2 separate regions of the Homo sapiens genome follow, and region 1 is linked to region 2. A link means that fine-mapping ties the variant in region 2 to the expression of a gene that starts in the linked region. Tissue or cell type: whole blood. Region 2 holds a variant in brackets; the other region holds the start of a gene. All regions are shown on one strand. Distances are between the middles of the regions. Region 1 holds the start of AKR1A1 (aldo-keto reductase family 1 member A1). Region 2 holds the start of PRDX1 (peroxiredoxin 1).

Region 1 (16,271 bases), 27 kb before region 2:
CAAAAAAAAAAAAAAAAAAAAATTAGCTGGGCGTGGTGGCACATGCCTGTAATCTCAGCTACTTGGGAGGCCAAGACATGAGAATCACCTGAACCCGGGAGGCGGAGGTTGCAGTGAGCTGATATAGTGCCACTGCACTCCAGTCTGGGTAACAGAGCGAGACCCTGTCTCAAAAAATAATAATAATAATAAGACAAGTTGAGGCTGGGTACAGTGGCTAACGTCTGTAACCCCAGCACTTTGGGAGGCCGAGGCAGGCAGATCACTTAAGACTTGAGGTCAGGAGTTCGAGACCAGCCTGGCCAACAAGGCGAAACCCCCTCTCTACTAAAAATACAAAAATTAGCTGGACATGGTGGTGCACACCTTAATCCCAGCTACTCGGGTGGCTGAGGCAGGAGAATCGCTTGAACCCAGGAGGCAGAGGTTGCAGTGAGCTGAGATCATGCCACTGCACTCCAGCCTGGGATACAGAGTGAGGCTCCATCTCAAAAAAAAAAAAAAAGACAAGTTGTGAGTAAAGCCAGTACACCAACACTGTCTTTCCTAATACTTCTGACCCAGGAAGAATTTTATAGTCTAGTTTAAGTTGGTTTTGGAAACCACTCTTTTCTGCTAAAACAAAATCAAAACTTCAATCTGAGTGTCAAACCACAAGCTACCAGGGCAATGCTCTTTATAATCAAATTTCCAAGGGATCAAGCAAGCAAGTCTGGACTTGACAAGAGGAACCTGGTGGCCTGCTGCCACCAGGGTCTAAGGCAGGTTTCCTGGGCTTAATGCCCAATGACCTGTTGGCCTCTCGCAGATTACCCAGCACGCATGAGAAGGCTCTGAAATTACACCTGGGGTGAGAGCTTGAACAACACCCTGGCTTAAGGGGAAAAGGAAGAAGAAACCTGAATCTTGCTTCTCCCTTTCTTTTGCTGGTGAAACTGAACACCGAAAAGGCTGAGGCTTGGGGAACAGGGATGAAAGATGGAGGAGATCTGCAAAGAACAAGAGCTCCCTAGGGAAGAATGAAGGTGCCACATAGATGTTTTTCTCTAGGACAGAAAATCATCCTCGGCCAGCTCTTGACTTCCTCATCTTCTGCTTGATACAACTGCTTTCCAGCCTAGCTGTGCGTGAACAGATTCCAGACTCTGAGCTTGTCAGGAACTGCCTATCTGGACCTTTGGCAGCATTCAGAAACCCTCATGTTATCTTTTTTATTTTTATTTTTTTGAGATAGAGTTTCATTCTTGTCACCCAGGCTGGGGTGCAATGGCGCGATCTTGGCTCACTGCAACCTCCACCTCCTGGGTTCAAGCGATTCTCCTGCCTCAGCCTCCCCAGTAGCTGGGATTACAGGCATGTGCCACCACGCCCAGCTAATTTTTGTATTATTAGTAGAGACAGGGTTTCACCATGTTGGCCAGGCTGGTCTTGAACTCCTGACCTCAGGTGATCCACCAGTCTCAGCTTTTCAAAGTGCTGGGATTACAGGCATGAGTCACTGTGCCCAGCCTATCTTTTACTTTATTTATTTATTTTGTTTGAGATGGAGTTTCACTCTTCTTGCCCAGGCTGGAGGGCAATGACGCAATCTTGGCTCACCACAACCTCCACCTCCCAGGTTCAAGCGATTCTCCTGCCTCAGCCTCCCGAGTAGCTGGGACTACAGGCGCCCGCCACCACGCTCGGCTAATTTTTGTATTTTTAGTACAGACGGGGTTTCACTGTATTGGCCAGGCTGGTCTCGAACTCCTGACCTTGTGATCCACCCACCTCGGCCTCCCAAAGTGCTGGGATTACAGGCGTGAGCCACTGCGCCCGGCTATCCTTTTTTTCTTTTAAGACGGAGTCTTGCTCCGTCACCCAGGCTGGAGTACAGTGGCACGATCTTGGCTCACTGCAACCTCCACTTCCCAGGTTCAAGTGATTCTCTTGCCTCAGACTCCAGAGTAGCTGGGATTACAGGCGCCCACCACCACACCTGGCTAATTTTTTGTATTTTTAGTAGAGACGGGGTTTCACCATGTTGGGTAGGCTTGTCTCAAACTCCTGACCTCAAGCAATCCACCCACCTCGGCCCAATGTGCTGGGATTACAGGCGCGAGCCGCCGCGCCCGGCGGAAACCTTCATGTTATATTCAAGTGTAAAAGAGAGATGTGTGGGTTGAGTGGGGAGGAGGGTATTATCAGGAATCAGGTTTTATTATTTCCAATTCAATGCCTAGGTTCCTTCCCTCTGTTGAATTCTTTCTTTCTCAAAGGGCTCTACAGTTGCTGCCTGGCTGCAGGGAAGTAGAAGACACAGGAAAAAAAGGAAACAATATCTACATGAGTGTTTCCTAGCTGCATGGGCCTCTCCTCTGGCTCCCACATATGCTGGTGTGGGAGGCAAAGGAAAGGTCCCTTCAGGGTTTTCTCCTCAATCTTCTCATTCCCTAGTTGAGTTCATGTCTTCGGTTATCGCCTTAGGCCTTGATTCTTCTCACCCCACTTCTGTATATTCAACGCCCTCTGGACCTCTCCACTAGTATGTATAGGCATCTGAGATTCGCCATGTCCAAAACTGTACTCATCAAATCCAGCAGTAGAGTACAGAGGAAACAGTTTAGGCTGTGGGGCTACGCAGACCTGGGTTTGAATCTCAGTTCTGATATTTTCAAGAGATACTATATCTAAAGCACCTTGCACAGGGCCTAACCCATGCTCTTCTTTCTGTATAGTCATCCCGTGGTATCCACAGGAGATTGGTTCCAGGACCCCTTCAGATACCAAAATCCTGGGATGCTCCAGTCCCTTATATAAAATGGCATAGTATTTGCATAAACCTAAGTACATCTTCCTGTATATTTTAATCAACTCTAAATACTTATAATTCCTAATACAATATAAATGCTAAATGCTAGGTAAATAGGTGTTATAATTTTTTTTTTTTTTAGACACAGTTTCACTCTTGTTGCCCAGGCTGGAATGCAACGGCGCAATGTCGGCTCACCGCAACCTCCGCCTCCTGGGTTCAAGTGATTCTCCTGCCTCAGACTCCCGAGTAGCTGGGATTACAGGCATGCGCCACCACGCCTGGCTAATTTTGTATTTTTAGTAGAGACAGGGTTTCTCCATGTTGGTCAGGCTGGTCTCGAACTCCCGACCTCAGGTGATCCACCCACCTTGGCCTCCCAAAATGCTGGGATTACAGGCGTGAGCTACCACGCCCGGCCTATACTGTATTTTTTTATTTGAATTTTTAAAGTTGGTTTTTGTTCCCAAGTATTTTTGATTCTAGGTTGAATCCGCAGATGCACAACTTGTGGATAGAGTGTTGACTTTGTACTCTATCTCACCAAAAGACCAAAGCCCTGGATAACAAGTGTTAAAGCAAACCAGACAACATGTTGATAGTATAATCCATTTGGGCCTTAAAAAAAAACATCTGGTTGCGTGTGGTGGCTCATGCCTGTTAATCCCAGCACTTTGGGAGGCTGAGGCAAGCAGATTGCTTGAGTCCAGGAGTTCGAGACCAGCCTGGGGGACATGGCAAAACTTAATCTCTACAAAAAATATGAAAATTAGCCAGGCATAGTGATGTGTCTCTATGGTCCTAGCTACTCAGGGGGCTGAGGCAGGAGGATCCCTTGAGCCTGGGGGGCAGAGGTTGCAATGAGCTGAAATCACACCACTGCACTCCAGCTTGGGCCACAGACTGAAACCCTGTCTAAAAAATAAATAAATAAAAGCCATCTAAAGAAAGTATTTGTAGTTCCTTGCAGGCATTTATGAGTATTATCAGATTATGGTTTTGATAAGTAGTTGGTGAGGAGAGTATTTTCTCCTGTACTTTTCTTTTTGAGACAGGGTCTCACTCTGTTGCCCAGGCTGGAGTGCAGTGGCCCATTCATGGCTCATTGCAGCTTCGAACTCCTGGACTGGAGCAATCCCGAGTAGCTGGGACTACAGGCACATGTCACCACACCCAGCTTATTTATTTACTTATTTATTGAGACAGAGTCTCGCTCTAACGTCCAGGCTGGAGGGCAGTGGTGTGATCTCAGCTCACTGCAAACTCCACCTCCCAAGCTCAAGCTATCCTTTCCATTCAGCCTCCCAGGTAGCTGGGACTAGAAGCATGGGCCACGATGTCCAGCTCATTTTTTGTGTTTTTCGTAGAGACAGGGTTTCTCCTTGTTGCCCAGGCTGGTCTGAAACTCCTGGGCTCAAGTGGTCCTTCTGCCTCAGCCTCCCAAAGTGCTGGGATTATAAGTGTGAGCCACTATGCCTGGCCTTATTTTTCTTTTGTAGAGATAGGGTCTCACTGTGTTGCCCCCTCAAACTTCTAGCCTCAAGTGACCCTCCCACCTTGGCCTCCTAAAGTGCTGGGATTACAGGTGTGAGCCACCACACCTGGCTTTCTCCTATACTTCTTTTTTTTTTTGAGACGGAGTCTCGCTCTGTCACCCAGGCTGGAGGGCAGTGGCGTGATCTCGGCTCACTGCAAGCTCCGCCTCCCGGGTTCATGCCATTCTCCTGCCTCAGCCTCCCGAGTAGCTGGGACTACAGGTGCCCGCTACCATGCCCAGCTAATTTTTTTGTATTTTTTAGTAGAGACAGGGTTTCACCATGTTAACCAGGATGGTCTCGATCTCCTGACCTCGTGATCCGCCCACCTCAGCCTCCCAAAGTGCTGGGATTACAGGCATGAGCCACCACACCCGGCCTCTCCTATACTTCTAGAAAAGCCAGCTTGGAAAATCACCTTACATATGTAATGTTGGCCAGATTTTGTCAGTTTAGCTGGGTTTTAAATCTTGTTAATACTTAATAGCTACAGAAAAAGAGAATGCTCTAATATGTAACCTAAGACCTAAGATTGCAATAATGCTTCCTGTACTTCTTGATGTATGTGAAAAGAATTTTAAAATATATATTCCTAAATCTTTCTCTAGTCCATCCATATCTACCTCCACTGCCACTGCCCCATCTCTGACCACCACCACTCTTTTTTTTTTGAGACAGAGTCTCGCTCTGTCGCCAGGCTGGAGTACAGTGGTGTGATCTCGGCTCACTACAACCTTCGCCTTCCAGGTTCAACCGATTCTCCTGCCTCAGCCTCCCCAGTAGTTGGGACTACAGGCGCATGCCACCACACCCAGCTAATTTTTGTATTTTTAGTAGAGACGGGGTTTCACCATGTTGGCCAGGATGGTCTCCATCTCTTGACCTCGTGATCTGCCCGCCTCAGCCTCCCGAAGTGCTGGTATTATAGGCATAAGCCACTGTGCCCAGCCTTTTTAAATTTTTTTTTGAGACAGAGTCTCACTCTGTTGCCCAGGCTGGAATGCAGTGGCATGATCTCGGCTCACTGCAATCTCTGCTTCCCGGGTTCAAGTGATTCTCCTGCCTCAGCCTCCCCAGTAGCTGGGATTATAGGTGTGTGCCACCACACCCAGCTACTTTTTGTATTTTTAGTACGGAGAGGGTTTCACCATGTTGGCCAGGCTGGTCTCGAACTCCTGACCTCAGGTGATCCACCCACCTTGGCCTCCCAAAGTGCTGGGATTACAGGCATGAGCCACTGTGCCCAGCTGACCATCACTCTTTACTTAAACCACAGATCTTGGCTTCCAGAGTGGTCCCTCTTCCCGCAGTCCATCACCAGATCCAACCATGTGACTCCCAGTCTCAAACCCTTCCAGCAATTCTCCCCTATATTCAGGATAAAGTCCAGGCTTCTCAAAACCTGGCTTCTATCTTTCTCATTTCACCACCTCCTCATGTCAGACTGTATTCCAGACTTTGAACACTCAACAGGGTCACATCACTTACCTGACTCTAGGTGTGTGCACTTTCCTTCCCCAAACCCTACCTTTGCCTGGCTAGCTGCTGCTCATCCTTCAGCTAGCACTTCACATTTCTGGCTCCTTTCCAGGTGCAGTGGCTCATACATGTAATCTCAGCACCTGGGCAGGCTGAGGCGGGAGGATCACTTGAAACCTGGGCAACAAAAGGAAACACTGTCTCTACAAAAATTTGTTTTTTTCTTTCTGAGTCTGCTTGCTAGGGGGAATTTTTTTTTTTTTATTTTAAAGATTAACTGGGCACAGTGGCATGTAGTTTATAGTCCAAAGGCTGAGGTGGCAGGATTATTTGAGCCCAGAAGTTTGAGGCTGCACTGAGCAAGGATTCCACCACTACACTCCAGCATGGGCAAAAGACCGAGAGACCCCCATCCATCTCTAAAAAGAAAATAAATAAATAAATAAATGGATGGCTACTTCCATGTACTGATAGCATGTGCACATCACTACATTTTTCTGTTTATATATAAATTTCCCCCACAAACCTGGCTACTCCTTGAGGTCTGAGCCTGTCATCTGCCTGAACCCCTCACTCCTAGAGTACCTGTCCCATACATACATACATACATACATACATACATACATACATACAATGTACACAATACACACACCACACACACACAGCTTATGGGGGAGAGATCTTGACAGGTTGAGTTTGGCCAGCTGGAAGGACATTTGAGGAAGTCGCTGCCTCTGTCACCTTCTTCCTTTACCTGTTGGAAAACCTGAAAAGAATCCTCTTGGAGAATATCAAAGCACTTTACTATACTCGGCAAAAAATCCCAGTGGACCAGATAGAATCATACTGAGATTGCTCCTGTATTAAAGATAAGGAAACAGATCTTGGAAAAGTAACAGGCCTGCAGCCCTGAGTATGAACGATCTGAAGGGGAAGAGTTAATTAACAGTAGCCTCATCCAGTGAAGGTTCAGATCTGTGTCTTACTTTAACAGAGTTCTGGGGCAACAGAATAACATGTCAGACTTTCTCAGACCCAAAGCAGGTGTCTAAGTAAGAGAATTATCCCCACTTCTCCCCACTTCTGAGAACTATCCCTGCACCTGCATAAGAAAGCCGGAGCAGCTGGAAAAAGCACATAGGTGAGCAAACAAAAAGATGGCAATTAAAACTTGCAGATCACCTAGTATGCGCTGTGCGCCTTCAAAGCTTTATCTCAATTCTTGCTACAGTTCTAATGTAGGACCTCATTTTATTGCTGAGGAAACAGGTTCAGAGAAACTGGGAAGTTAGCAAGAGATCATACAGAGAAAAAGAAGAGCTCAAATCCGAAACCAAGTCTCGTCCCCTCCAGTGCTCTGCGCTCTCCACTCAACCCCAGGGGCTTACATTTCAGTAGTAAAGAATCGAGGCCATCTCCTCCGGGAGAAAGATAGGCCAGCAGCAAGAGAAACTCACCTTGGCACAAGCACAGAGCGTGAATAGGGTACTGTGGCCTGGGCTCAGTTCTGCACCCCGCCAGAGATCCAACGATCCTCAGCTTAAGTCTGGCGGTGAGGGGGAAGTTCCACCCGGAGGGAGGGGCAGGGGCCGGGCATAAAGGATCACGCGCAGGGTGGACCGCCTTCGCCGCCTCCCGAGGAAGGACCTGAAGGGGATGGAAAACAGAGCTGGGAGGTAGTACCGTCTCCACCTCTGGATCCTCGAGGTCGAACTGGCCGGAACTTGGTCACTCACTCCGCAGCGCGGGTTTGGAGAACTCCTGGGCACAATGAGGCAGGTGGCGCTGGCCACGTGGGCGGTGCAAGGGGCGGGGCCAGCCTCGCCTTTTGCTGGCCCACATTGCACCGCGCGCCTAGGCGCCGCCGCAGGCGCTTTTCCGGGGGAAGTAAGGTAGCAGATGCCACGTTGCAGGTTCTTCTGGTGTCGGCCCTCCGGATTCACAATGCCATCCGTGGCTCCATACTCTCCCTAAAGTCAGGTTGGCTGGATTCCCAAAGTTCACCTAAGTTGGCCCCGTTACATTTAGTTCAAGCAAACTGAGGCCCAGAGAGCAGCTGCAACACCAAGATTGGCCAGAATACAGAAGACCTCGCGTCTGCAGATCCAGGCGCTGGAAAGTGCCTGGTCCCCCTGTCTGGACCATAGACCCCGCCCAGCACGTTATGTGCCAGGCACTGTGCTTAACACTTAATAAACATGGTTTTATTGAATCTTCATAATAATCCTGGAAAAGGAATATTCCTTTTTTTTTTTTTTTTTTGAGACGGAATCTCGCTCTCGCCCAGGCTGGAGTGCAGTGGCGCGATCTTGGCTCACTGCAACCTCCGCCTCCCTGGTTCAAGCAATTCTCTGCCTCAGCCTCCCGAGTAGCTGGGATTACAGGCGCCCGATACCACGCCTGGCTAATTTTTTTGTATTTTTTAGTAGAGACGGGGTTTCGCCATCTTGGCCAGGCTGGTCTTGAACTCCTGACCTCGTGATCCACCCGCCCTGGACTCCCAAAGTGCTGGGATTACAGGAGTGAGCCACTGCGCCTGGCCGAAAAGGAATATTCTTTTATTTCGTACAAGCCTTTTTAAAAATCGTAGTATAGCATATATACAGAAAATACACCAGTCTTTTTTTTTTTCTTTTTCTTTTTTTCCTATTCTACATCCAGGAAGAAAGAAAATGTATAAATCTTAAATGTATACAGTTCTTTTTTTTAAATTATTTTTTGCAATGTAACTGCCATCCAGAGGAAGATATTACCAGCACACCATAAGCCTGTGAGGAAAGTATTCATAATCCATTTTACAGATTGGACAGACTCAGCAAGGTTAAGGCTATTTATAATTTTCCCAAAGTCACACAGGTATTAATTAAATGACACATCTGCGATTTGAAATAGTCTGTGCTGTTTGAGTGGAGAGGTGTCTTGCATGTATGTGTTTTCCTTGGCAGGGATGGGCAAGACACAGGGTTATCTCGGTTTGGCTCTGCTTTTCCCCACACCTTTACTCCCTGAGAGCAACTCTTCCCATTTCCCCACCCCCGTTATCCCCCACTGTCTCCCCAACATAAGTGATGTCCTGGTGGACCAAATGTCTAATGTATCAGGCCATCCTCATAAAAACAATCAGACTTGGCCGGGTGCGGTGGCTCACGCCTGTAATTCCAGCACTCTGGGAGGCCGAGGCAGGCGGATCACCTGAGGTCAGGAGTTAGAGACCAGCCTGACCAACATGGAGAATCCCCGTCTCTATTAAAAATACAAAATTAGCCGGGCGTGGTGGCACATGCCTGTAATCCCAGCTACTCGGGAGGCTGAGGCAGGAGAATTGCTTGAACCTGGGAGGCGGAGGTTGTGGTGAGCTGAGATTGCGCCATTGCGCTCCAGCCTGGGCAACAAGAGTGAAACTCCATCTCAAAAAAAAAAAAAAAAAAAATTCAGCTAGGCGTCGTGGCGCGCACCTGTAGTCCCAGATACTCAGGACGCTGAGGCAGGAGAATCGCTTGAACCCGGGAGGCGGAGGTTTCAGTGAGCCGAGATCGAGCCACTGCACTCTAGCCTCTTGACAAAGCGAGACTGCCCCTCAAAAAAAAAAAAAAAAAAAAAAAAAAAAAAAAATTAGCTGGATGTATTGATGCGAGCCTGTAATCCCAGCTACTTGGGAGCCTGAGGCAACAGAATCACTTGAACCAGGGAGGCGGAGGTTGCAGTGAGCTGAGATCGCGCCACTGCACTCCAGCCTGTATTCAAAAAAAAATAAAATAGGCCAGGCATGGTGGCTCACGCCTGTAATCCCAGCACTTTGGGAGGCCGAGGTAGGCAGATCACCTGAGGTGAGGAGTTCGAGACCAGCCTGACCAACATGGAGAACCCCCATCTCTACTAAAAATACAAAATTAGCCAGGTGAGGTGGCACATCCCTGTAATCCCAGCTACTCAGGAGGCTGAGGCAGAAGAATCACTTGAACCCAGGAGGCAGAGGTTGCGTTTGGCAAGATTGTGCCATTGCACTCTAGCCTGGGCAGCAAGAGCAAAACTCTGTCTCAAAAAAAAAGGGGCCGGGCGCAGTAGCTCACGCCTGTAATCCCAGCACAAGGCGGGCAGATCACGAGGTCAAGAGTTCGAGACCAGCCTGGCCAATATGGTGAAACCCCGTCTTTACTAAAAATACAAAAATTAGCTGGGCATGGTGGCACGCGCCTGCAGTCCCAGCTACTCAGGAGGTTGAGGGAGGAGAATCGCCTGAACCCAGGAGGCAGAGGTTGCAGTGAGCCGCACCACTACACTCCAGCCTGGGTGACAGAGCAAGTCTCCGTCTCAAAAAAAAAAAAATACGTAAAAGAAGAACCTACAGGCCAGGCACAGTAGCTCATGGCTGTAATCCCGGCACTGTGGAAGACTAAGAAGGGAGGATCACTTGAGCCTAGTAGTTCAAGACCAGCCTGGGCAATATAGTGAAACCTCATCTCTACAAAAAATATAAAAATTAGCTGGGCACGGTGGTGCACACCTATAGTCCCAGGTGTTTAGGAGACTGAAGTGGGAGGATTGCTGGAGCCCAGGTCTTCGAGGCTGTAGTGTGTCATGATTGTGCCATTCTACTCCAGCCTAGACAACAGAGCAAAACCTTGTCTCTTTTTTTTTTTCCCCTCAAATTCTTTTTACCAAGGACCCTGTCTAAAAACAAACAGGCCAGGTGTGGTGGCTCACACCCGTAATCCCAGGACTTTGGGAGACCGAGGCGGGCCAATCACCTGAGGTCAGGAGTTCGAGGCCAGCCTGGCCAACATGGTGAAATCCCATCAATACTAAAAATACAAAAATTAGCTGGGCATGGTGGCAGGTGCCTGTAATCCCAGCTACTTGAGAGGCTGAGGCAGGAGAATTGCTTGAACCTGGGAGGCAGAGGTTGCAGTGAGCCGAGATGGTGCCACTGCACTCCAGTCTGGGCGACAGAGCAAGACTCCATCTCAAAAATAAATAATAATTTTTAAAAAACAAAAAAACAGAAGTGAGCAAATAAGAATATAAGAACAACCACTTTATTGAGCATCCACTACTTACCATAGTCTTTATATTCATGTTGTCTGATATCCACAGCAGAAACTTTTGGATTTGGTGGACATGAAGATCATTGGTGACCAATGTGGAGAGCTCCTTCAGTGGAATGGTTAATCCTGAGCCAGATGACCTGAATTCAGGAATGAACAGGAGATGAAGACATGGAGAATCAGAGGAAGGACTTCTCAAGGATACAGTAAAGGCCAGGGACAGTGGCTCATGCCTGTAATCCCAGCACTTTGGGAGGCCAAGGCAGGCAGATCACTTGAACCCAGGGGTTCTCAAGATCAGCCTGGGCAACATGGTGAAATCCCATCTCTACAAAAAATACAAAAATTAGCTGGGTATGGTAGCATGCACCTGTGTTCTCAGCTACTTGGGAAGCTGAGGTGGGAGGATCACCTGAGCCTGGGAGGCCAAGGCTGCAGTGAGCTGTGATCGCACCCACCACTACAAAGCCTAGGCAACTGAGTGAGACCCTGTCTCAAAAAAAAAAAAAAAAGTAAGAGGAAGAAAAGTTATGGGTTAATAGTGACTTGATGCAGATGGAGGGAGAGTTTTTCACTATGTGGGAAATGCGAGCATGACCACGTGCTAAGCAGCGGGGAAGGGTCCAGTGGAAGAGACAGGAGATATGAAAGTGGAGAAAATGATGGAGGGAAGCTGGGCGCGGTGGCTCAAGCTTGTAATCCCAGCACTTTGGGAGGCCAAGACGGGTGGATCACTTGAGATTAGGAGTTTAAGATCTGCCTGGCCAACATGGTGAAACCCCATCTCTAGTAAAAATACAAAAAATTAACTGGGCATGGTGGTGCACGCCTGTAATCTCAGCTACTTTGGAGGCTGAGGCATGAGAATCCCTTGAACTTGGATGGTGAAGGTTGCAGTGGGTCAAGATCATGCCACTGCACTCCAGCCTGGGTGACAGAGCGAGACTCTTGTCTCAAAAAAAAAAGAAAAAGAAAAAGAAAAAAAATAATGGGATAATTGTGGGGGGGATCATGGATCATACATTTAGCTAACATTTACTTAGCATATACTATGTCCTAGTCCTTTCACTGGGCACAAAAATGGACCAGCCTTGGCCGGGCACGGTGGCTCACACCTGCAATCCCAGCACTTTGGGAGCCAAGGTGGGAAGATCACTTGAGGTTAGGAGTTTGAGACGAGACTGGCCAACATGGTGGAACCCCATCTCTACTAAAAATAGAAAAATTAGGCACTCATTCTCTTTCCTGCCACCCTGTGAAGAGGTGCCTTCCACCTTGATTGTAAGTTTGCTGAGGCTTCCCCAGCCATGTGGAACTGAGTGACTCCATCTGCAGCTTTTATTAGAAATCAAGGGAAGCCACCAGAAGACGGAGCACTGAATGAGCTCTGCGGAGCTGAATCATCTAACCTGACCTCCAATTTAGAAGAAAGCCCCTCTGTGCGCACCTGCTAACCTGCCTGTCATCACCCTCACAGCTGTGCTGGGTCAGTGTCACAGACTCACCCATTCCAGAGTTACCATCTGATATGTGTAGGCTCATATGAAAAGTATGCTGTAATGTGAGGAAATAAATCCGACGGAAAAACAAAAATCAAAACAAACAAACAAAAAATACAAAAATTAGCCGGGTGTGATGGCAGGCACCTGTAATCCCAGCTACTCAGGAGAAGTGCTTGAACCCAGGAGGTGCAGGTTGCAATGAGCCAAGATTGTTCACTGCACTCCAGTCTGAGTGACAGAGTGAGATTTCATCACAAAAATTTAAAAAAAAAAAAAGGACCAGCCTTGTTCTCTGCCTTCAAGGTTCACAGTCCAGAGGGGCTAATGTAGAACAGGCAGAATGCATACCTATGTGTGTGTGCAGGGTTGGCCTTGTGTGGCGACAGAGGAGGCTGAAACAGATGAAGAGCTAGAAAGTGAGAATGGCTGTCTAGGAAGGAGAAGGGAGCATCCCTTTCTGGACAACTAGGCAGGAGGGAGGGAAAGGTTAAGTTCTCAGCACCCCTCACTGAACGTTTTAGCATTTGGCAGGGGTTTCTAGACCCTAAGAGGAATGTGGCCAGGTAGAAGAGATGAAGAAATAAATGCCTGCTGTCCAAGTCTCTGAGTTTGTCCCGGAGCTACCCCAGTGACTTATTTGCTGGCACTTCCTGCTTACTGTAGGCTAGGCTGTCTGAATGAGAATGAAGAACAGAGTTCAGGTTCCCAGAGGACCCATATACGAAGCAGGGCGATAAGGGGGCCTGAACAAGATCTTGACTTTATGCGTGGACCTTCTAGTGACATTGTAATGAGCGCACATTTAAGGAACATATTTAAGTTCCTTCTAATCCCCTATTAGGGCCGAATCATTCCTAAACTCTGGCCAGCTCTGAAACCAACTTCACAAGACCTGACTCATTTCCCCCAAGTAGTGAAAGTCCCTACACAGGTAGCTACTGGAAATGGCCCTGGGCCTGTGCACTGAGGCATTATTCTCCCTCTCAGGCCCCTCAAATCCTGTGGTCCCATTCAAGTGGCTGCTGAGAGCCAGCAAGGCTGGCACCAGGCCCTGGGGACTGCATTATGCAGTCAGCTACCTCATCTTTTGGGATCTGAGCTCCAATCCCCAATCCCACCAGAGTGACTTGGTCCTCAGAACCATTTATTGCTTTTTTCCTGATTATGCACCAAAGCAAAATTCTTAATTTCTTAAATATATGTTATTTATTTTTTGAGACAGAGTCTTACTCTATCATCTAGGCTAGAGTGCAGTGGCATGATCACGGCTCACTGCAGTGTTGACTTCCCAGGCTCAAACAATCCTCCCACCTCAGCCTCCCAAGTAGCTGGGACTACAACTGTCCACCACCGTGCTCAGCTAATTTTGTTTATTTTTTGTAGAGACGAGGTCTTACTATATTTGCCCAGGTGATCTCAAACTCCTGGGCTCAAGCGATCCTCCCACCTTGGCCTCCCAAAAGTGCTGCAGTTATAGGCATGAGCCACCAAGCTGGCCATGCTTACTTTTTTGAGTTGTTTGGGGATTAAATGAAACAATGGATGTAAAGTGCCTGGTGGTACATAGAGATTTAATGAGTGGTAATGATTATTATTTATATTCAAAATAGGCTGCTGCAAGCTAGGTTGAAATAGGAAAACTGTTCCCTCTTCTCCTACCCCTTCAAGTGAAACTACTACAAACTGCCACCCATCCCTGACAGAGACAGAACTCCAGAATAGAGGAGGAGGACTCTGCACAGGGTTGCAGTCTCTTTCTCTCTCATGCATGCGCACATATACACTCATGCACCCATGCAAGCACACTTACACCTGTACATGCACACACATGATTATGTAGAGCTACAGCTGTTGGCATAGAAGCTATAGTTATATCAGGGTAGGAATCAGTTCTATTATGGCAGTTACAAAGATCAATGCTGCAGTGAAGTGGTGGAAAGGAGGCTGCAGCCAACTGAAACCAATGGACTGGGACTGGAAAGTCGGGGGTGGGGGGAAGAGGAGGAAGTGGTGTGGGCTAGGGCAGGCAGGCAAGGGAATAACCGCTGACGGAAGCAGACAGCCTGTCATATGGCGGTGCGGATTTCCCCTGTCAACTGCATTTCCTAATTTTACGGTCTTCTGTTGCACATGTCACCCACAGAGGCTGCTCTGTGCTAAAAGTGGGTAGAAGTGATTGATTTATTCATTCGACTGACCAATATTTAATGATATCTACCATGTGCCAGGAGTTTTTTGGAAAAATAGACTGTTGTTGGGAAGGGAGTTAAAGGAAGCTGGAGAATGGTAGTCTGAGCAGAGGAATTGATATGTGCCAAGTTGTGGAGGAATGAAGCAGGATGTTACATTCCAGGAACTACATGTGGTTTGATAAGAAGGGAGCATAGGCTGGGTGGGAGGATCACATGAGGCCAGGGCAGCATACTGAGACCCTGTCTCTACAAAAATAGAGGTGTTGTGCACCTGTAGTCCTAGCTACAATGGAGGCTGAGGTGGGAGGATCACTGAAGCCCAGGAGTTTGAGGTTACAGTTAGCTATGATTGTGCCACTGCACTCCAGCCTGGATGACAAAGCAAGACCCTGTCTCTAAAAAAAAAAAAAAAAAAAAAAAAAAAGTATTACAAATTTAAATATATATACTTCAAAATACAAGTAGGAGAAAGAAAAAGAAAACATATATATAAGGCAATTTGATAATATATATGAAAATGTTAAATGTCCATCCCTTCTGATTCAGCAATTGTAAGGAACTTAGTTTTAGGAAATAATAGAAAAGGGACAAGGCTGTTTACTGTGTTGTTTAGATTACCCAAATCAGCTGAGCGTGGTGGCTCACGCCTGTAATCCCAGCACTTTGGGAGGCCAAGATTGGAGGATTGCTTGGGGCCAGCAGTTTGAGACCAGCCCGGGCAACATAGCGAGACCCTGTCTCTATTTTTAAAATATATTTTTAATATAAAAAAATTAAAACATATTACGTAAATATTTGTAGGAAGGGAATATCCAAAATAAATTGTTGTGCATCCATGTGATAAATACAGACACAACAAGGATAAAGTAAATATGTAAGTATTGTTGTGGAAAAAATGTCTTTGATATGTTGTTAAGTGGGGGGAAAAAAAAACTATGGGGTTACTAAAAGTGGGTTTGGCACCAGCTCTGTTCAGCCCTTCAGCTCCGAAGTTCAACGAAGTTCAAAGTCCTACGGCTTCCAAAGGCCAGTGTATCAGTTCCTGCCCCTGGATCAAGGTTGTGCAAGATGAGGGAGGAGGCTGGTCACAAGCCTGACATGGGGGTAGAGATTTCTTATCCAGCCCTGCCTCAGCCTTGACAGAGTTCAGGAGCCAGATCCCTGCATTGCAGCCTGGCTTCCTTCTCCAGGCAGAACGTGAGTAAAGGTTAAACATTCCTGGGTGCTAGGTACATAGTGGTGCCCTTCCTACTTCATTAGGATAAAAAGGTAACTTGTCTGAGCTCTACTAGTGCTGGGCTTTAAGAACCTGATTTCCTTTCTTTTTTTCTTCTTCTTTTTTTAAATCAGTTGGTTTAATTCCAGGTGATACATAATTTAGAGTAGAACAAAGACCAAAGGGCCAACTCTGGTAGGATTCTGGGCTGGGAGATGATAAGCCACTGTATGATTTTTCTTTTTTTTCTTTAAAGGTTTATTCTTTTTTTTTTTTTTTTTTTTAACATGGAGTCTTGCTCCGGAGTCTTGCTCCAGAGACTCTCCTTTGCACACCCAGAGTGCAATGGCGCGATCTTGGCTCACTGCAAACTCTGCCTCCCAGGTTCAAGCAATTCTCCTACCTCAGCCTCCTGAGTAGCTGGGATTACAGGTGCCTGACACAAGGCTCAGCTAATTTTTTTTGTATTTTTATTAGAGACGGGGTTTCACCATATTGATCAGGCTGGTCT
Region 2 (16,271 bases):
CAGAGGTTGCAGTGAGCCAAGATCGCGCCACTGCACTTCAGCCTGCGCGATGGGAGCAAGACTCCATCTAAAAAAAAAAAAAAAAAAACTCTGAGAAGCTGACTGAAGCCTCTGGGTGCTTATGTTCCTCCCGACAAGTTTTGCACGAAAAATGCATATGATGACATTTTGCCTCTAGGTTTCTGAGGATCTCCTTTGCTCATGTCTAGTTATTTTTCCTCAGTGAGGCACAGAGTCACCCTGTGCCTGTCAGGCTCTCACTTGCCCTGGTGCTGTCTCTATGGAGCTTAACATACTGTAACAGCTGTCTACTTCTTTTTTTTTTTTTTTTTTTTGAGACAGAGCCTTGCTCTGTAGCCCAGTCTGGAGTGCAGTGGCATGATCGCCTCCCGGGTTTAAGCGATTATCCTGCCTCAGCCTCCAGAGTAGCTGGGATTACAGGTGTCCACCACCACGCCTGGCTATTTTTTTTGTATTTTTAGTAGAGACGAAGTTTCACCATGTTGGCCACGCTGGTTTAGAACTCCTGACCTCAAGTAATCTGCCTGCCTCGGCCTCCCAAAGTGCTAGGATTACAGGCGTGAGCCACTGTGCCCTGCCTTACTTGCTTTTTATCATTTTGTTTTGCTTTTTTTTTGTTGAGGCAGGGTCTTGCTCTGTTGCTCAGGCTGGAGTGCAGTGGTGCATTCATGGCTCACTGTGGCCTAAACCCCCTAGATTCAATCAATTCTCTCATCTCAGCCTCCTGGGTAGCTGGGACTACAGGCATGCGTCATCATGTTTGGCTATTTTTTGTTTGTTTGTTTAATTTTTTGTAGAGATGGGTACCCCTATGTCGCCCAGGCTGGTCTCCAACTCCTGAGCTCAAATGATCCTCTCATCTCGGCCTCCCAAAATGCTGGGATTACAACCATGAGCCACTCCACCTGGCCCTGTCTACTTGCTTTTTTTTTTTTTTTTTTTTTTTTGAGACGGAGCTCGTCTTGTTGCCCAGGCTGGAATGCAAATGGCGCGATCTTGGCTCACTGCAACCTCCACCTCCCAGGTTCAAGCCATTCTCCTGCCTCAGCCTCCCGAGTAGTTGAGATTACAGGCATGTACCATCACGTCCGGCTAATTTTGTATTTTTCGTAGACACGGGGTTTCTCCATGTTGGTCAGGCTGGTCTTGAGCTCCCAACCTCAAGTGATCCACCCGCCTCGACCTCCCAAAGTGCTGGGATTACAGGCGTGAGCCACTGTGCCCGGCCCTGTCTCCTTGTTAAATGGGAAAAATTAATCCCCTATTTGGTTAAGCTTGTTATTTGCAGTTAATCTGTTACTTTCAGTTGCATTCAATTTTAACAAATAGATATCCTTGATAACAGTGTTTCTGAAATTGGTATTTGTAGGCCTCTGTACATTCAAATATAATTTTAAAAATTGAATCCTTGTAAATTGAAGAATTCAACTGTTTTCTTTTAGTGATAATCTAAAAAAATTTAACATAAACATATTCTAAATCATCTGTATGAAAAATAAGCCCGGTAGTGGTGACTCAGCCTGTAATCCCAGTACTTTGAGAGGCCGAGATGGGTGAATCCCTTGAGACCAGGAGTTCGAAACCAGACTGGACAACATGGCGTAACCCTGTCTCTATTAAAAATACAAAAATCAGTCAGGCATGGTGGCACATACCTGTAATTCCAGCTACTTGGGAGGCTGAGGCACAAGAATCACTTGAACCCAGGAGGTGGAGGTTGCAGTGAGCCGAAACCATGCTGCTGCACTCCAGTCTGGGCAGCAGAGCAAGACTCTGTCTCAAAAAAAATAAAATAAATAAAAGAAAAATGAGTGCTGTCTTGTGATTTGGGTTCCCATTATTTTATTTTATTATTTTTTGAGACAGGGTCTCACTCTGCTCACTCTGTCACCCAGGCTGGAGTACAGTGGTGCCATCTCGGCTCACTGCAGCCTCGAGCTCTGGGACTCAAGCAATCCTCCCACCTCAGCCTCTGGACTAGTTAGGACCACAGGCACACACCACCACACTGGGCTAATTTTTTATTTTTTGTGGAGATGGTGAAGGGGTGGGTTGCCCCTCCACACCTGTGGGTGTTTCTTGTTAGGTGGAACGAGAGACTTGGAAAAGAAAAAGACACAGAGACAAAGTATAGAGAAAGAAATAAGGGGACCCAGGGGACCAGCGTTCAGCATATGGAGGATCCCGCCAGCCTCTGAGTTCCCTTAGTATTTATTGATCATTTGTGGGTGTTTCTCGGAGAGGGGGATGTGTCAGGGTCACAAGACAATTGTGGGGAGAGGGTCAGCAGACAAACACGTGAACAAAGGTCTTTGCATCATAGACAAGGTAAAGAATCAAGTGCTGTGCTTTTAGATATGCATACACATAAACATCTCAATGCTTTACAAAGCAGCATTGCTGCCCGCATGTCCCACCTCCAGCCTTAAGGAGGTTTTTCCCTATCTCAGTAGATGGAACGTACAATCGGGTTTTATACCGAGACATTCCATCGCCCAGGGACGGGCAGGAGACAGATGCCTTCCTCTTGTCTCAACTGCAAGAGGCATGCCTTCCTCTTATACTAATCCTCCTCAGCACAGACCCTTTACGGGTGTCGGGCTGGGGGACGGTCAGGTCTTTCCCTTCCCACGAGGCCATATTTCAGACTATCACATGGGGAGAAACCTTGGACAATACCTGGCTTTCCTAGGCAGAGGTCCCTGCAGCCTTCCGCAGTGTTTGTGTCCCTGGGTACTTGAGATTAGGGAGTGGTGATGACTCTTAAGGAGCATGCTGCCTTCAAGCATCTGTTTAACAAAGCACATCTTGCACAGCCCTTAATCCATTTAACCCTGAGTTTGACACAGCACATGTTCCAGAGAGCACGGGGTTAGGGGTAAGGTCATAGATTAACAGAATCTCAAGGCAGAAGAATTTTTCTTAGTACAGAACAAAATGGAGTCTCCTATGTCTACTTCTTTCTACACAGACACAGTAACAATCTGATCTCTCTTGCTTTTCCCCCACAGATGGAGTTTCGCCATGTTGTCCAGGTTGATCTCAAATTCCTGGGCTCAAGTGATCTGCCCACCTCGGTCTCCCAAAGTGCTGGCTTTACAGGCATGCACCACCATGCCCGGCGTCCATTATTTTATTTTGCATTTGTTGTTACAATTATCTGAGAGCATTTAGTTTCATGGTTTATAGGTTTAATTTTAATGGTTTATAAGTTTATAGCAGGCTGCTATCAGGTTAGCAAGTCCTACTGTTAAAATGATTGCTGTCCTGGGACATGGGCTTTATACTTACATTGAATTGCCTTACCTTTTACATTTAGTTGGCTGTGAAGAAGAGACAATGGCTGTTGATGAGTCAGGTAACTGTCTCCCACAGCAAATTAGTGCAGTGATGTAACTACTGCTTTTTTTTTTTTTTGAGACGGAGTCTTGTTCTGTTGCCCAGGCTGGAGTGTAGTGGTGCGATCTTGGCTCATTGCAACCTCTGCTCCTGGGTTCAAGCAATTCTCCTGCCTCAGCCTCCCAAGTAGCTGGGATTACAGGGGCACACTGCCACACCCGGTTAATTTTTTTTTTTTTTTTTGTATTTTAGCAGAGACGGGGTTTCACCATGTTGCCCAGGCTGGTCTTGAACTCCTGAGCTCAGACAATCTACCTGCCTCGGCCTCCCAAAGTGCTGAGATTACAGGCATGAGCCACCACACCCGGCATTTTTTTTTTTTTTTTTGAGATGGAGTCTCGCTCTTGTCATCCAGGCTGGAGTGCAGTGGTGCCATCTTGGCTCACTGCAACCTCCGCCTCCCGGGTTCAATCACTTGTCCTGCCTCAGCCTCCCAAGTAGCTGGGACTACAGGTGCCCACCACCATGCCCAGCTGATTTTTGTGTTTTTAGTGGAGACGGGGTTTCACCATGTTGGCCAGGCTGATATCGAACTCCTGACCTCAGATGATCCTCCTGCCTTGGCCTCCCAAAATGTTGGGATTACAGGCGTGAGCCACCGCTCCCGGCCTGTTTAACATTATTTTAAACCTCAAACCTGCTTTTCTTCCAGTGTTTCCTATGTCACAGGTTAATGACATCACTCATGTCACCAAGAAACTGGATTTAATTTACTCTTTCCTTTCATCCTAAATCCAATTAATCCTAAAGCCTGAAGAAATATACCTTGTATTTCCTTCTTTCTACCCTGCTGCTAATGTCATATTACAGTTCTGAGACTTCTCTTGTCTGGATCATTGCCGTGGCCTCCCAATTGCTCTCTTTGCCTAATCTCCTAGTCACTAAATTCATTCATCACACAGCTTCCAGAGTCAACTTCCTGAAACGTAGTTCAAATAATTTAATTCTACATCTCAAAAGTCTTCAACACATTGTAACATTTATTAAGTACTTCTATGCCAGTTACTGTGCTAGACTTGTTACTACAAATATAAATAAAACAAGGGGAATAATTCCCATGCTAATGGTGAGCAAATGAAGAGAGCACAATGGAATATATCTAAAAATAGAACTAGAGGTATACATCAGACCCTGCAAGAAAGCCTCCTCCCCATGGTTCTGAAATCTTTACTGTCCTTTGGAGAGACTCTACAAATCACTTAGACTTGTTCAACAGATTTCTTCTTTTTTCAGTACTCTGTCCAGTTATTTCACTTTTATGATCTTAAGGGGATAGACTGTTAACATTTCTCTAGGCTAGGATAACTCTTTTTTTTTCCTGTTTTTTTTTCTTTGTTTGTTTAGAGACTGGTTCTTGCAGCACTGCCTAGGCTGGGCTCAAACTCCAGGGCTCAAGTGATCCTCTCACCTCAGCCTACCAAGTAGCTGGGACTATAGTCACATGCCAAATGTGCTCCACTCTCTTTTAGTTCTTTTTTCTTTTCTTTTTTTCTTTTTTCTTTTTTTTTTTTTTTGAGACAGAGTCTTGCTCTGTTGCCCAGGTTGGAGTGCAGTGGCGGGATCTCAGCTCACTAAAACCTCTGCCTCCCGGGTTCAAGTGATTCTCCTGCTGCAGCCTCCTGAGTAGCTGGGATTGCAAGTGCCTGCCACCACGCCCAGCTAATTTTTGTATTTTTAGTAGAAACAGGTTTTCACCATGTTGGTCAGGCTGGTCTGGAACTACTGACCTCATGATCTGCCCACCTTGGCCTCCCAAAGTGCTGGGATTACAGGCTTGAGCCACCATGCCCGGCTTTTGTTCTTTTTTTTTAGACGGAGTCTCACTCTGTCACTCAGGCTGGAGTGCAGTGGCGCGATCTCGGCTCACTGCAACCTCCGCCTCCTGGGTTCAAGAGATTCTCCTGCCTCAGCCCCCTGAGTAGCTGGGACTACAGGTGCACACCACGAAACCCAGCTAATTTTTGTATTTTTAGTAGAGATGGGATTTCTCCATGTTGGCCAGGCTGGTCTCAAACTCCTGACCTTGTGATCTGCCCGCCTTAGCCTCCCAAAGTGCTGGGATTACAGGCATGAGCCACCGTGCCTGGCCTTGTTCTTGAATTAGAAAAATAAACTCAAGTGCCCAGCCCAATGCCTGGCATATGGTGAATACAATAGGTGGCAATTTTCTTTGGGCTGAAGTATGACTGTATGTACTGTGTATTGGTTTAGCCTGCCCATAGCCAATAACCATCCATTATTAAGCTCTGAACTTTCATGCTGCCCTTGCTCCTGCAAGAAAGAAAGGGGAGTCTCTCTGAGCCTACGCTGGCTGCTGGCTCGGGTGGCTGCCTGATAAAAAAGAATAAAAGTTACATAAAAATTAAAAAAAGGAATAATGCCAACTAACTATTCAGCCTCAGGCAAAGAAGGAAAAAGCAAATAAATCACGTCTATGCAAAGTAGTATGATAAATAACAAAAATTGAGATGCTCAATGAGCATGAGACAGCACTTCCTCATTCATTATCCCACTATAAGGGCCAAGGGAGTTAGTGAGGGAGCTGGGGACAGAGACAGAAACATGATACTATTGATTGAATGCTCACTGACTGAGCTCCTATTTTATATCAGATGCTTTGTTGTGACTTTGGGGACACAGAGACAGATGTCACCCACATCCTACTCTCCAGAAAGTCACTCTAGCAGGCAGAGGAAGAAATGTAAAACTAAAATTGCTTAAAAGATTTTTTTGGCTATACAAGCTATTGTTTGGACACAAAGGAGGGGAATTGTAAATCCTGGGAATGAGTAAAGGTAAGAAACAGCCGGAGAGAAAGTAATGCTGAAAGACATGTTTTCTCCAGGGAAAGAGTTTTCCAGGTTCAAACAAAAGTCTGAAGGCGGCCGGGCTCAGTGGCTCACTCCTGTAATCCCAGCACTTTGGGAGGCTGAGGCAGGTAGATCAACTGAGGTCAGGAGTTTGAGACCAGCCTGGCTGACATACTGAAACCCCGTCTCTACTAAAAATACAAAAAATTAGCCGGGCGTGGTGGTGGGCGCCTGTAATCCCAGCTACTTGGGAGGCTGAGGCAGGAGAATTGCTTGAACGCTGGAGGTGGAGGGTGCAGTGAGCAGAAGTCGTGCCATTGCACTCCTGCCTGGGCAAGAAAAGCGAAATTCCATCTTAAAAAAAAAAGTCTGAAGGCTTGAAACAACTACACTGTGTTCTGGGTGTTATAAGTGTGAAGGATGGAAGAGTTATACTAATAGCAGCTAACATTTCTAATTTATAATAAGAACTAAGTACTGTACTGAACTACATAGATAATCACAATAAAGTATTAATATTATTCCCATTTTACAGTTGAGAAAAGTAAGGTTTAATGAGTTTAAGACTTGCCCAAGTTCACACCTAAAATTACAGTGAGGAGTTTTTGTGTTTGTGTGTGTGTGTTTTTTTTTGAGACAGAGTTTCGCTCTTGTTGCCCAGGCTGGAGTGCAATGGCGCTATCTCAGCTCACTGCAACCTCTGCCTCCCTGATTCAAGCGATTCACCTGCCTCAGCCTCCAGAGTAGCTGGGATTACAGACATGCGCCACCACACGTGGCTAATTTTGTATTTTTAGTAGAGATGGGGTTTCTCCACGTTAGGCTGGTCTCGAACTCCTGACCTCAGGTGATCTGCCCTCCTCAGCCTCCCAAAGTGCTGGGATTACAGACATGAACCACCGCGCCCGGCCCTGACAGTGAGGAGTTTTAACTCAGTAAATTGACTACAGAGCCTCAGCTTTTATTTTATTTTTTATTTTTCTTTTCTTTTTAAATTTTACTTTCTTTCTTTCTTTAGCCCCAGCTTTTAAACCACGAATAACAGTGACATGATCAGACTTCAGAAAGATTTCCTTCAGCTGCAGTGGAAGGGATGGATAAGAGATAGTGTTAATTGAAATGAGTGACTAAACTGACTAAACCATGTCACAGACACTTTTGTGGCTGTTTCTTCCCCAGCTTTTAAACCACGAATAACAGTGACATGATCAGACTTCAGAAAGATTTCCTTCAGCTGCAGTGGAAGGGATGGATAAGAGATAGTGTTAATTGAAATGAGTGACTAAACTGACTAAACCATGTCACAGACACTTTTGTGGCTGTTTCTTCCCAAGAGGTTCTCAGGAGGTTTTTAGTATTTATACATTTTCCTTGAAAAGTGGGGGTGGGAAAGATTGAGGCAAAGACTTTAGCTAATGCTCAGGAAATCTACGTTTTGTTTTTTGAGACGGAGTCTTGCTCTGTTGCCAGGCTGGAGTGCAGTGGTGCTCTCGGCTCACTGCAACCTCTGCCTCCGGGTTCAAGCGATTCCCCTGCCTCAGCCTCCCAAGTAGCTAGGACTACAGGCGCGCCACCACACTCGGCTAAGTTTTTGTATTTTAGCAGAGACAGGGTTTCACCATGTTGGCCAGGATGGTCTCGATCTCCTGACCTTATGATCCGCCCTCCTAGGTGGCCTAAATCTACATTTTTACATAAGATAAGGTGAATGTTTGAAGAAAAAGGGAATGGAGGAAGAAAACAATTATGTGGTGGACTCAGGGTAATCTAGTAGTAAGGTACTACTAGAAAGGTAGAAAGTAGTCTAGTAGAAAGGTAATCTAGTAGTGAACATTTATGGAATTTGTGGAATAGAGGCCAGGTGCGGTGGCTCGCGCTTACATTCCTAGCACTTTGGGAGGCCAAGGCGGGCGGATCACCTGAGGTCAGGCGTTGGAGACCAGCCTAGCCAACATGATGAAACCTCGTCTCTACTAAAAATACAAAAAATTAGCTGGGCGTGGTGGTGCGTGCTTGTAGTCCCAGACACTCCGGAGGTGAGGCGGGAGAATCGCTTGAGCCCGGGAGGTGGAGGTTGCAGTAAGCCAACACCGTGCCACTGCACTACAGCCTGGGCGACAGGGTGAGTGAGACTCCGTCTCAAAAAAATGTGGAATAGAACAAACTTTAGTTTTAGGAACTAGACTTTATATTGTAGATCTAGTTGCAATTGACACGTCCTTGTTTTATGGGAGGCTACATACTTTAAAGGTTTCCAGGGGAGCAAATAATTAATTATGATTTTGTGTATGTGTGTTTGTGGGGGGTAGTCATCAGGAAATGTCTGAGGCCTTTTGCCTTACCGTGTGGGTCTGGCTAATGTGTAATGTTTTGACTCAAGATTGTAAAGTCAAATTATTCATCCGGGGAGAGGATGGTCGTGTAACTGAATCAGCCTCCCAAGATGAACTTTCCCTCTGGCGTAAGTTTAGGAGTCCTGATATTTTATTTTCCTTTACAACAGAAAGCAGCAACCCTGTAATTAAAGAGAACAATGAAGGAAGCTATCTAAGCCATGAGGGTTACTGAGGATCTGCGCTGGGGTTAAGGCTGCGAACTTAAGAAATATTTGGATAGACAGTTCTCATGGCTTGGTGTGGTTAGACGTGGTCCTCCGTGGGCAGCAGCTAAGACGCTTACTCCAGTTTGGGCATTGAGGGCACAGTGCGTAGTGGTCCTGGAAGTAAAGAGAATCCTGGTTTTCCGCAGAGATCTAGGATTAACCTAAGCGTTCGGGTTCGGGAGCGGCCACAAGGGCGCCTCACTCCAACCTCAGCCATCCGCAACAGGGTGGGGTATTAGTATTTTTCCGCACCCGCCCCAACGAGGGAAAGCGCCGAGTCATTCCGGCGGGGCGCGCCGGGCGGGGCTCGGGCCACATCCCCCTCCTCTCTCTCCTCCTCCGGCACCCCCGTCCGTTCCGACTCTCGCGAGATCCCTACTGGCTATAAAGGCAGCGCCCCGGAGAGCTCTTGCGCGTCTTGTTCTTGCCTGGTGTCGGTGGTTAGTTTCTGCGACTTGTGTTGGGACTGGTGAGTGTGGGCAGTGCGGCCCCTGCGGAGTGAGGCGCGGCGCGCCCTTCTTGCCTGTTGCCTCTTCCTCCTCCTGTCCGGGGCCCGCCCGCGCTCGGGTGGGGGTGCTGTGATGCGTGAGGCAGCCGGGGGAGGCCCGGAGTCCGAGACTGCTTGAGCGCTGCGCACACCCCTCTCGTGGGCCCCCCACGTAGGTGCGGGAACCTGGTTGAACCCCAAGGCAAGCGTGGACTCGAGTCGAGTCTTCCCCCGGCAACTCGAGCACGTGGCGCGGCGTCTGGGCGGGCTGGTGGTGGGGGTCTCCGAGACTAGCCTCCTGCCGGACGGGGTGGGTTCGGGAAGCTTCTGGAATGGACCTGTATCCAGACTCGTGGCTGTAGAAGACAGCCTCTATGTATTTGGCTGTTCCGGGTCCTGAGCCTTGACTAGCTGCGGAGCTTCGGGTACCCTTTCCCCGTCTTTATTTTCCTGTACGTGGAATGGAGTTAGCGATGAGCCCAAATGTCCCCGCTGAAGCACTCTCTCTGCTGGTGCTTTCTCCAGTGCTGGGGAGGGACAGGGGGCACCTGAAGTGGGGTTTAGGGATGTGGCCCTCTACGCTGGGCAGATCCCCTGAAGGGGCCCGGTGGCGGCCTGAATCCCAGCAGCCTTTACCCCGAATTGGTTGGGTTTTGTACTTGGGGGCCACTTGGGAAAGAAGGATTGGACGAGAAGGCCATTTGGGGGCACCAAGTTGCAGCATGCCTTAGTTTTTGGTTTTTGTTTTTTGTCGTTAAAGGTGTTAAGGACTTTTTAAAAAACAGTTAAAAGTTTGCTAAGATCCATGCTTACAAAATTTCTTTTGCTTGTGGTATTGTGAACTAAGAACTTTGGGACTTGGAAAAGCTTTCAGACCGCGGCTTAGTGGGTTAAATCTCTGTTTTTTGAGCTAGAGTCTCGCTCTGTCGGCCAGGCTGGAGTGCAGTGGCGCGGTCTCGGCTTACTGCAACCCCTGTCTCCCGAATTCAAGCAATTCTTCTGCCTCAGCCTTAGGAGTAGCTGGGATTACAGGCTTGTGCCACCAAGCCCCGGCTAATTTTTGTATTTTTTTTTTTTTTTTTTTTTTGAGACGGAGTCTCGCTCTGTCGCCCAGGCTGGAGTGCAGTGGCTGGATCTCGGCTCACTGCAGCCTCCGCCTCCCGGGTTCACGCCATTCTCCTGCCTCAGCCTCCCGAGTAGCTGGGACTGCAGGCGCGTGCCACCACCCCCGGCTAATTTTTTGTATTTTTGTTAGAGACGGGGTTTCACTATGATGGCCAGGCTGGTCTCGAACTTCTGACCTCAGGTGATCTGCCTGCCTCGGCCTCCCAAAGTGCTGGGATTACAGGCTTGAGCCACAGCGCTTGGCCAAGATCTCAATACTAATCTTGGTGTTGATCTGGGTGAATCCAGTGCAACCTTCCTTTTCAGCAGTAAATTGATTCTTATACTTGTTTTCGCCCTGGGATATTAGCCCCAAAGTCAGGAACCCACCTTCACAAATGGTGAAGGGAATTCTAGGGCTTACACAATACCTAAAGATTTGAAATTAAGCAGATGCCAATCAATATCTTGGTCTTGCCTCTTTTTTTTTTTTTTTTTTTTGGAGACAGAGTCTCACTCTGTTGCCCAGGCTGGAGTGCAGTGGCGCGATCTCAGCTTACTGCAACCTCTGCCTCCCGGGTTCAAGTGATTCTCCTGCTTCAGCCTCCTGAGTAGTTGCGATTACAGGCATGCACCACCACGCCCGACTAATTTTTGTGTTTCTAGTAGAGACGGGGTTTCACCATGTTGGCCAGACTGGTCTCGAACTCCTGACCCGGTGATCCGCCCGCCTGAGCCTCTCAAAGTGCTGGGATTACAGGTGTGAGACACTGCGCCCAGTGGTCTTGCCTCTTAAAAGTTGGACTGACTGGAAGGGCGCGGTGGCTCACGCCTGTAATCCCAGCATTTTGGGAGACTGAGTTGGGCAATCATCTGAGGTGAGGAGTTTGAGACTAGCCTGACCAACATGGAGAAATCCCGTCTCTAATAGAAGTACAAAAAAATTAGCCGGGTGTGGTGGCCTGCGCCTGTAATCCCAGCTACTATGGAGGCTGAGGCAGGAGAATCCCTTGAACCTGAGAGGTGGAGGTTGCAGTGAGCCGAGATAATGCCATTGCATTCCAGCCTGGGCCCCAAGAGCGAAACTCCGTCAAAAAAACAAAACAAAACAAAAACAAATAAAACAAGTTGAATTAGTTATAGGTTGTGTGCTGTCTTGGACAAAGCTACCTGGAGAAAAGTCAAATATGCTTCTGATGTTATGAAGGCAGGTGGAGGCACAGTGATGGGAAAGGTCAACGTGACTTTTGGGGAGCCAAACAAAAGTGTTTGTGGCATTGTGCATTTGGATTCTGGTTTGAGAGTCTTCATCTGCCTCTCTCTCTGCTTCTGTATAATGAATAAGATGCCACTGCACTAATTATGGTTCAGAAAGAATGAGAGGTTATCTCAGTATATAAAGAAATTGCCTTGCTGTTTTTAAATGAAAACAAAGGCTGAGATTCAGAGACTTGTTTCGTTCCAAAAGTTGGAAAGCTCAGACTGTGACCCTTGACTGCTGGCTGGAGCTTCTTACTAAAACAACATTTAATGTATTCAGGGACACTGGACAATGCCTTGATTGTTTACAGCTAAGTCTCTTTAAGTAGGTGAAGGCTGCTGGTTATGTAGAAAATTAAGGCTTGTTTCTAATTCATTTCTGTTATTTCTAGCTGATAGGAAGATGTCTTCAGGAAATGCTAAAATTGGGCACCCTGCCCCCAACTTCAAAGCCACAGCTGTTATGCCAGATGGTCAGTTTAAAGATATCAGCCTGTCTGACTACAAAGGTGAGAGAATTAACACTGGGCTCATTGAGATGGAGTTATTTTATATTCTAGGGGTGGCTTGTTAGATTTGTGTCAATGTTGTTTGACTGTAAAATGTTTTGTCTCCTAGGAAGAAGTATTTAGGTTGTTACCTTCATGTTGAAGTGGTGATTATCAAGTGATTACAGGGTATATATCCTAGGACCAAACCACTTCTGGAGAAACCACATGCTTCATTATGTCTGGACATACTAGCTCAATTATCTTTTCAGTATTCCTCGTCTATTTTCTTTCTTTATTTTTATTTTTGAGACAGGGTCTCATTCTGTCACCCAGGCTGGAGTGCAGTGGCGCAGTCATGGCTCACTGCAGCCTCTACCTCTCTGGGCTCAGGTGGTCCTCCTACCTCAGCCTCCCAAGTAGCTGGGACTGTAGGGGCATGCTGCCATGCCTGGCTAATTTTTGTACTTTTTTTTTTTTTTTTTTTTTTT[G/TG]AGATGGAGTTTTGCTCTTGTTGCCCAGGCTAGAGTGCAATGGCGTGATCTCGGCTCACCACAACCTCCACTGCCCAGGTTCAAGCAATTCTCCTGCCTCAGCCTCCCGAGTAGCTGGGATTACAGGCATGCGCCATCATGCCTGGCTAATTTTTTTTTGTATTTTTAGTAGAGACGGGGTTTCTCCATGGTGGTCAGGCTGGTCTCGAACTCCTGACCTCAGATGATCCGCCCACCTCGGCGTCCCAAAATGCTGGGATTACAGGCATGAGCCACCACGCCTGGCTTAATTTTTGTACTTTTTGTAGAGCTGGGCGCCATGTTGCCCAGGCTGGTCTCCAACTCCTGGGCTCAAGCCCTCTGCCTGCCCTAGCCTTTCAAAGTGCTGGGATAACAGGTGTGAGCCACTGCCTCTGGCCCTCCTCTATTTTATTATTGGAGAAATACTCATTATCTCTTGTTATAAGAGACATTCTACATTTAAAGTCTCAGAGCTCACTCAAATCTCTGGAGCTGTGACACTGCTCGTTCAGTTTGTTTGGGTCACGTATATATCACAGCTGTTAATATTAGGCTGAGGGCTAGGCACTTTCCCTTGCCTGTTTTGACCCCGGAGGAGAGTTGATATTACAGATGGAACAACTCTCCTTTCTGTTGTCATAGTTTTTTTTTTTTTTTTTTTTTTTGAGACGGAGTCTCGCTTTGTCGCCCAGGCTAGAGTGCAGTGGTGCGATCTCAGCTCACTGCAAGCTCCGCCTTCTGGGTTCATGCCATTCTCAGGCCTCAGCCTCTTGAGTAGCTGGGACTACAGGCGCCCGCAACCATGCTTGGCTAATTTTTTTGTATTTTTAGTAGAGACGGGGTTTCACCATGTTTGCCAGGATGGTCTCGATCTCCTGACCTTGTGATCCGCCTGCCTTGGCCTCCCAAAGTTCTGGGATTACAGGCGTGAGCCACTGCGCCCGGCCTCTGTTGTCATAGTTTCATGCAGACACTTGGCAAGTTCTGTTGAGGCTCCTCCTTTCTTTACCTTGTAGTTCCAGAGCAGCTCGATCTCCTGGGACAGTTGAGGATATAGATTCCTTAGAATGCTAACCTGAAACTCAGGTGTCAAGTGTCCTTTTCTCAGTGGTGTAGCATTAGTCCCTGGAGTTAGTTTTTGGTAGAACATTTGACTAGGTTTCCTGACATAATCACACTTTGTTCTTGGGGCTTCTCCCAGCAAACAAGGTAAGTTGCACCATAGGGAGGTGACCTGGGCCCAGGGGTATAAGCAGGAGGTCTAGGAGGAGCTGTTCTCTGCCCTCCAGAGCTTGACCTGCTGAGGCCCCAAAGTGCTTGTTAGGCAAAGCTGGAAGGGTTGTTTAGATGAGTTAGTTTCCAGTGATACTGCAAAGTGGTAAATGTCAAAAAGGGCTGCTTGTTTGGCTTTTTTTTTTTTTTTTTGAGGTGGAATTTTGATCTTGTCGCACAGGCTGTAGTGCAGTGGCATGATCTCAGGTCACTGCGACCTCCATCTCCCCGGTTCAAGTGATTCTCCTGGCTCAGCCTCCCCAGTAGCTGAGATTTCAGGCCCCCGCTGTCACACCCAGCTAATTTTTGTATTTTTAGTAGAGACATGTTTTACCATGTTGGTCAGCCTGGTCTTGAACTCCTGACCTCAGGTGATCCACCCGCCTCGGCCTCCCAAACTGCCTCCCAAACTGCTGGGATTACAGACGTCAGCCACCATGCCACCACACCCAGCCTGTTTGACTTTTCAAACATTGCTGCTACCTGGAAATGAGTGAATATTTGGAATTGTTCTAGTATTTAAGCCTGGTGGGTGTGGCGAGAAGGCTGCCTGGCCAGTTTGAAGATCTGTTATTTCAGTGGTTAATCCCAGTGACTTCATTAAAATTGCAGCTAGAAGTTCTGTTACTCACTAGTACTTTTGTCTTTTCTGTCTCTCTCTGTCTCCCTCTTTCTCTCTCTCTCTCTGTGTATATGTATATATATATTTCTGTTGTTTTGAGACAGTCTTGCTGTGTTGCCCAGGCTGGCCTCAAACTCCTGGGGTCAAGGGATCCTCCCACCTCAGCCTCCCAAGTAGCTGGGACTACAGACACGCACCACTGTGCCTGGCTTAAAATTTTTCCTGTCCTGTCAGGCACGTTAGGAACACATGTGATCACTTAAACCATGCTTGTTCCATTACTATGGTTCATCACGGGAGAAGTGCAAAGGCTGTGACTTCTTATTGGTGTCTTATCTCTACAGCAGAGGAGTACTGCAATTCAGCTTTCTCTGGGTATTGTTAAGCATTGGCATTAGGCCATGCTTATAAGTGCATCCTTGCTTTTGCTATCTTTGGAGAACTTGGTGTTTATGTTAATTTTAGCCACTCAGAAAAGATCAAAATTAGACTGAACAGTGTTTACTCTGTATTGGTAGCTATGACATGGAGGCAGGAGAATAAAGTATGGGATTGGAAGTTTTTTTCATTCAGGTATTCCTAATGCACCAGGTTCTAAAAGTAGCTTCTAGGAGACATCTGTATTGAGCATCTTGGCAGTTAGTGGTTATTGTGTCAGCCATCAACTTGCTTCTTTTTGTATAGGAAAATATAAAGCAAGGAAGTCTGTGTCAAATGCTAACCATGACTCCGATTTTCCCCCCAGGAAAATATGTTGTGTTCTTCTTTTACCCTCTTGACTTCACCTTTGTGTGCCCCACGGAGATCATTGCTTTCAGTGATAGGGCAGAAGAATTTAAGAAACTCAACTGCCAAGTGATTGGTGCTTCTGTGGATTCTCACTTCTGTCATCTAGCATGGTAAATCTCTTGGTCTATTTGGCATGTGAACTTTTTTTTTTTTTTTTTTTTTTTTGAGATGGAGTCTTGCTTTGTCGCCCAGGCTGGAGTGCAGTGGTGTGATCTCCGCTCACTTCAAGCTCTGCCTCCCAGTTTCACGCCATTCTCCTGCCTCAGCCTCCTGAGTAGCTGGGACTACAGGCGCCTGCCACCATACCTGGCTAATTTTTTGTATTTTCAGTAGAGACGGTGTTTCACCGTGTTAGTCAGGATGTTCTTGATCTCCTGACCTCGTGATCTGCCCACCTCAGCCTCCCAAAGTGCTGGGATTACAGGTGTGAGCCACTGCACCTGGCTGGCATGTGAACTTTTAAAACAGCAACTGGGAAGCTTTGGCAATAGACTTTCAAGTATTGCCTTCTCATTGAAGGGAGTGCAAAGTCTGACTTTCTCTTATTGCTCTCATGACCTGGCAGCAGAGAAGAAGCAGCTTCAATTGCAGTTGAGTGTACCCTAGTGACCTACCTTAACTGTTCTCAGCATTCACTTTATTGCTGGAAAACGGAAAAAAAACAGTCTTTTTGGAAAGTTAGATTAGGAATATGGGAAAGGGGAAAGAGGAATGCGTACAGTCAAGTCAAGAGTTTGAATGTAACTGTATGTTTGCCTTTTGCCATAGGGTCAATACACCTAAGAAACAAGGAGGACTGGGACCCATGAACATTCCTTTGGTATCAGACCCGAAGCGCACCATTGCTCAGGATTATGGGGTCTTAAAGGCTGATGAAGGCATCTCGTTCAGGTATGTCATCAGGA

Evidence for each region. PIP is the estimated chance that this variant, and not a neighbour inherited with it, causes the effect.
Region 1: it holds the start of AKR1A1, and the variant in region 2 is fine-mapped to the expression of AKR1A1 in whole blood (INTERVAL, PIP above 0.99).

The regions. Positions count from the first base shown.
Region 1 is chr1:45,542,147-45,558,417 of GRCh38, reverse strand. It overlaps AKR1A1 (aldo-keto reductase family 1 member A1), which reads right to left and starts at 7,592. Exons shown (of 9, transcript NM_153326.3): 1 at 7,263-7,592. RefSeq lists enhancers at 875-1,620, 1,621-2,367, 7,120-7,339, 7,570-7,799, 7,850-7,909 and 3 more and a silencer at 13,402-13,451.
Region 2 is chr1:45,514,859-45,531,129 of GRCh38, reverse strand. It overlaps PRDX1 (peroxiredoxin 1), which reads left to right and starts at 9,246. Exons shown (of 6, transcript NM_181697.3): 1 at 9,246-9,301; 2 at 12,076-12,192; 3 at 15,323-15,476; 4 at 16,135-16,257. The coding sequence starts at 12,087. It also overlaps the pseudogene HMGB1P48. RefSeq lists enhancers at 3,568-4,076, 8,768-8,847 and a silencer at 9,890-10,052. The variant G/TG (reference allele first, on the strand shown) is at 12,663.